Linked DNA regions of Homo sapiens: region 1 is linked to region 2. A link means that fine-mapping ties the variant in region 2 to the expression of a gene that starts in the linked region. Tissue or cell type: esophagus mucosa. Region 2 holds a variant in brackets; the other region holds the start of a gene. All regions are shown on one strand. Distances are from middle to middle. Region 1 holds the start of NEO1 (neogenin 1). Region 2 has its middle 54 kb from the start of NEO1.

Region 1 (2,904 bases), 54 kb before region 2:
TATATTTCTCTTGCTCATCTAAGAGACAGTTGGATCAGTAACCTGCATTTCAGCACCAAAATGTGTTCTAAACCATATACGGACTGAATGTATAAGGGTACATCATGACATAAGTGATGTTTAATTTGACATTAAAACACTATTGTTTACGTAGCTGTTTAGAGAATACCGAGTGGTACTTTACGTTTAAAGCTGTTCTTTAACATTGGCAAAAGCCATGAGCTACATACACACTCTGCAAGGAAATGAAAAGTTTATCAGTCAAGTTACCTTGCAGTGTGATTTTAAATATTATTTCATATAAATCAGGGAAAAACAAGTACTGGTTCAGCGGTAAGACTGCTTTCAAATGTAAAAATATCATATCTCACACGAGTGAAAGTTTTGTCAAGTTTTATGGTACACCACCTTGGTCAAATAATTTTAACAGATTACATGCTAATTTGCCTTTCAACTGCTGAGTGTATCCTGCTCAACAATACCGTAAGGTCCTTCCCGGAAGGCTTGGCATTTTTGTTCGTTGGTCCCCTTAATAGGAATGCAGGTGGTTTCAGTAATCTATAATATTCCAAAAAAGAACTGAAAATGGCTTTTGAGGTTCAATGTTTATACAATGCCATCTGAAAACATTGTACAAGTACCTAAAATCTGATGCTTAGACAATTCCCTTGGTTAAGAGTGGTTAATAGGCTGTAAATATAGTTGTAATCCCCAGGAAAGAAGAGGCATTTCATAACGGAAACACTAACAGATACGATCACTCCGAGCCGCTCTCCAAGGCGTCCTCATCGTTAAATCAACACCAGGGGTTGTGAGCGGGCAATTGTGCCCCTCTGACACCCCCGCTCTTCCGCAGACTCGGGCTCCAATCCCCGCGCGAGGAGTCCCTCGAGACTAGCCAGCTCTTCCTCGAGACTTCGGAAGCTGGGAAATCCCTGGCCAGGGAACCAGGAGCTCAAGCCCCCTCCCCTTTCCTTTCCTGAAAATTAATGAATTGGCCGTCTGATTGTTTATTTAATGAGGTGTGTAGTGGCCTCTACTGGTGCTAGTGTGAGCACAAGAATGTCCCACTCTTACAAGTGGGATGAGCCTGGGGGAGGGGAGAGAGGCGAGGGGTGAACCTGCCTCCAGGTACAAAGCTGGGAACTAGACCCCTGCGCCCCCGACCTGCCCCCCGGCAGCCGCCCCTTCCCCGGTGGCGCCCCCTCTCGCCCTTCTCCTCCCCACCACGCGCGATCCCCTTTCTCTTCGGCAACCGGAGCCGAGGCAGAGAAGTTCCTGCACGTTTCCTCCTGGATCCTAAACAAAAACACCGCAGCCGCGGCCGCCTGAGCCGGTGCCGCGCCCCCGCGAACCCCCGGGCCCGCGCCCGCCGCTTACCTGGGGACTGCGGCGCGGAGCCGCTCCTGGCGGCCGCGGCGCCCGGCGCCCGGCGCCCGAGCAGCAGCAGGCAGTAGAGCCAGAAGGAGGGGGTGCTGAGGAGTCGCCGGGCTCCCCGCTCCGCCGCCATCTCTTCCCCGAGAGTGAGCGGCAGCGGCGGCGACAGCGCCGCGGAGCCCTTGCCTCCTTCCCTCCCGCGCGCCTCAGCCGGTCCCTCGCTGCAAGCTCGGCTCCCGCGGCCGCCGCTGCTCCAGCCCAGCCCGGCCCGGCCCGGCCCGCGCAGCCCCTCTCGCTGGAGGGGAGACTCCAGGGCGCCTCCCTCCTGCAAGGGGGCGGGGAGGGGAGGAGAGCGAAGAAGGGGAGTCAGTACATTCCGGGGCGGGGGGGGGGGGGCGGTGGGTCGGTCTCCAGGTTCCAGGCGCCGCCACCCGCCGCCGACTCCGGCTCCACACACCAGCGCGAGGGGGGCGGAGACCGCGGACGGCGGGGGCGGGGGCGGGGGCGGGGGGCGGGAGTCCCGGGCGCGCACACGCGCACGCGCGCGCCTCGCCCGCACCCCCTCGGCTCCGCGCGCGGCCCGCCCCCGCTCCAATCCCGGCTGCCGCCTCTCGGGCCGTGGCGGGCCCGCTCCCCTCCCCCTTCTCCCCGGAGCCGCTGACGGGTGCGGGGCGCGCGCGCCGGGCGCTGCTGCTGGCGTCAGGGAAACCCCGGAGAAGCGGATCCTCCTGCTCCTCCCGCCCGCTCGCCGCAGCCCCTCGGCTCCGCGCGCCCCCGCCTCCTCCTCCTCGCCTCGGGGACAAATTCCCCCCTCACCTCCCCAGATGCCTCTGGCTGCAGAGACCTGAGGGCGAGAGGCGCTCCGAGCTCAGGCTGGTCCGGGAGGCCGGCGTGGGCGCGCACCTCTGCACAGTCCGGGCCTGGAGCCTCTATATAGGGCCTCAGAGGAAACCGAAAGGCCTCCGGGAGGAAACCTGGGTGCGCAGTGGGTCGGCCCGGGGATTTATGTGCTCGCCAAAAACAATAGCGATCCCGCCCGACTCTTGCTGGGCCCTGGCGCGGCTCCCGTGGGAGGGGGCCGGCCGCGCAGCCGCTGACCTCCGGCTCCCAAGCCGGGCCGCCGTCGCCGCGCGCTTCCCCCGGGCAGCGCCGGGACCCGCCCGAACCGCGCCCCCACCCGCATCGCTCGGCCCGGGTCCAGGGAACTAGGCACAGACAAAGGTGCCCGCTGTCCACTTCCTCAGCTCGTGCGGGGGCCCCGACCGAGCCCTGGGACTCCCCGGGGCCAGTCTTCTCGCAGTAACTGCTACGTTTTACCTGTACCTTTGCGGGACACTTGGCGTTTTCCTACCTGGGAATCACGTCTTTCGCTGATAAACCAAGGAGCAAGTGGGATATGATTTTAAACCACTTAGTAATCGTGAGGCAGCACCCAGGCTACACAAAGTTAGGAGAAAGCAGTTTGTAGTTCCACTGCTGATGAGACTATTGATCATTTTATATACTGCACCCATGAAAAATTTTTAA
Region 2 (2,904 bases):
TAGAAGTCGTCACCCTTTTCCAAATAGCTCTTTGTTCTCCTGGTGTCCCCAGCCCCAGCTTCCACCAACAGGAGAAGACTTGAAGCATTCCCGGAACTGCTCTTGGACCTCCAGAGCTTCCTGTGTCCCACATTATCTTGCATTTTTCCTGCTAGTCATGATCTCTCTGTGCCCTTGCCCAGGCCTCACATCTAGTTAGTGTTACAACTCTTGTAGATGCCTCTTGAAAGGATGACCATCTTCTCTCAGGGTTTTTGTTTGTTTTTAGAGCCTTTTCTCCTAAGAAACCTGCTCTAGGACCGGTTCATTCCCAGTTCAAGTGGTACCGTCTATATCAAAATCCAAGCTGTCCTTTCCTGCCTGGAATCCCAGGTATTAGAAGTCCAGGCATCTGCATTTTCCCGAGTGCCGACGTGTCTCTCGCTGACTGCTTCAGGAAACCCTCTGATGTGTTAGGAAGAAGGTTGTGCCTTCCCTCTGACCTGAGAGGCTGTATTTTGGAGGCGAGGGTCTTTCTGACGTCATCTCCTTTTTTCTGAATTATGGGTCTTGCTGCCAACCTGTGAGGGGGCAGTTTGTACAGTGAGATTTGCCTCCACACCTTTGGAATTGCCACATTCAGGCGAGCCAGCAGCCGTATTTCATCTGGCTTATCGTATTTGGGTGGTGGCTAATTCAAATATTTCTCTCCACGCCCAGCACTTCCCAGTCACCCACAGAGACAGTACATCCTTCTCTCATTTGCAGCCTACAGACTCCTTTCTGCTTGCCCAGTCTCTTTTCATATGCTGCCTCTTCTAGAATCAATAAAATTTCAAATACACTTAATCACTTAAATACCAGTTTTGTGGTGCTCTTCATCTGACTGAGGTATAGACATACGTGTATAGGCATGCAGAAGACACGCGGTACACTGGTGTTTACCCAAGTCAAGATGCTGCCATCCTGAGGCGTTTTGCACCATCTTTTTTTCCTCACCGAGTCTCTCAGTGACAGCCCAGTGACCTTTTGTCTGAAACAAGACAATATCTGTGAAGTTAACTTCCATTGCTGCACACATTTCGGCTTGTAAGCCGTAAAGGGACATCCACAAGTCCTGACTCTTTGTAGATAAATTTAACACATACATATGTATCATCCCTGGGTGTCTCAGATTAGAGGCCTTTGGAAGAACGCGGTGTTCATTTATATTCTTCTCATAGCTGGAAGCCACATTAAGCAGTTACTTTTATATTGGTGAACCTAGAGCCCTCAGGCCTGAGTTCTGTCTCCTGCTGGTCACTCCTCTGGCCAGCCTCTTCCGGGTATGAGAGCTATTTCCCAACCTGGAAGAGCTAGGAGCCCCGGGCACGAAGCATCTCAAAGAGATGGCACTGGCAGTTACAGTCCCTGCTTGAACTCTGGGAAACAAAC[C/T]GCCCACTTCCCACACTGTTGCAATTTACTACAAGTCTTAGCACGAGCAGTCCCTGTTTCAGCCTGGCACCCAAGTGTCTGGGATTTGGAAATTTATAATTGGAACTTGAAAGAGCCACCAGTACTGTCTTGGGGAAAAAAAAAAAGGTTGAAAGACTTTCTTGCAAACATTGTTACTTACACATGCCAGGTAATTTACAAGGTTAGTCCTCAAGCCTCTGTTGCCTGGGTAAGAGCAAGTAGTGTTTCTGGGGAGGACATCTGTGCCTCTCTTCAGCCTGATGTCACAGTCAGCTTTTTAATGGCTTTGATTCTCTCTGCTCTGAAAATTGCAGAGGAATACTGGAGATTCAGGTGGGAATGTTCCGCAGGTAGAAATAAATTCTGCCAACCATAGCTCGCATTCCTGTTTGCATACAAATATCCCCTAAGATTTAAAAATGTCAAAGTGAGAAGTGTAAGTCAACTGATTTCCTACCTTCTTCATTAAGGTTTAGTGTTAGAAACTGACAGGAGAAAGCTCTCAGCTGAGGTAGGTGACCCAAGCATGTTTAAATACATGCTCATATCTTTATTTTAAAATTCTAAACCTTTAATTTTAAATGTTAGATAAACTTACATTTTATATTATAAAAATGATAAGATATGACTGTAAAATTTTTGAAAAGCCTGAAGTAAAAAGAAGAGGGAAAAACCCCACTCATCCGTCTACCATCCAAAATCAAGTGTTATAATATTTTGGCATATTTTCTTCCAGGCTTTTTAAAGCTCTGGTTTTTAAGATTTTGCTTTTCATCTTAAAAACAAAACAAAAACCAAATCAACTTCTTTGCCAATATTTGCCTCACCAAATACAAAGCAAACCTTATAAGACCACTCAAAGGGGTGTGTCAAAGGAAAATACATTTTTCTTCATCACCACTGGGCTGTGTAGACAGGCCTGGGAGCCTCTTTCTCTCCCAGAACCCTTTTTAGAGAAGGGTCTGAACCTCTTCACAGCTCAGGAAGTAACCTTCCCCTCTCTCCTTCCAGAATCTAAAAATTAAGGTTTTAGAGAGTGAACACTGGCTTCCCCTTATGTAATTCCCTGTTGTTTTGGCAAACAGGTTCCATCTCCCCTCCCTTGGGACATGGCTTATCAAACATTCCCCCTGGAAGTGTTAGTTACACTTGAAGGAAGGAGTTCCAGAAATGCTACCCCAAAATATGCCACTTTGCTGTGCTGATTACTTTGAACAGAGAGCACTTGGGGAACAGCGAATGCAGGCAGAGGTTTTCCCTGAGACCCCTTATCTGCCTAAAGACGGATACTCCAAAAAAAAAACTCAATTATCATGAATCTGCTCTCTGGGAATCTTATCAACATGGGAAGATTAACTCCAATCACAGGAGAGGAGACTGGACACCACGCCAAGACAGACAATCATCTCTTCTCCTGAGAACTGCTCCAGACAACTTTTTTGTTTGTTGGTTTGTTTGTTTGTTTTGTTT

What was found. PIP is the estimated chance that this variant, and not a neighbour inherited with it, causes the effect.
Region 1: it holds the start of NEO1, and the variant in region 2 is fine-mapped to the expression of NEO1 in esophagus mucosa (GTEx, PIP 0.97).

What each region holds. Positions count from the first base shown.
Region 1 is chr15:73,051,282-73,054,185 of GRCh38, reverse strand. NEO1 (neogenin 1) reads right to left here and starts at 1,723. Exons shown (of 29, transcript NM_002499.4): 1 at 1,381-1,723. The coding sequence starts at 1,510. RefSeq lists silencers at 1,404-1,783, 2,014-2,333, 2,424-2,493, 2,554-2,603.
Region 2 is chr15:72,996,870-72,999,773 of GRCh38, reverse strand. No RefSeq gene overlaps it. Among named protein-coding and RNA genes, the nearest start is that of NEO1, 54 kb to the left of the region's middle. The variant C/T (reference allele first, on the strand shown) is at 1,414.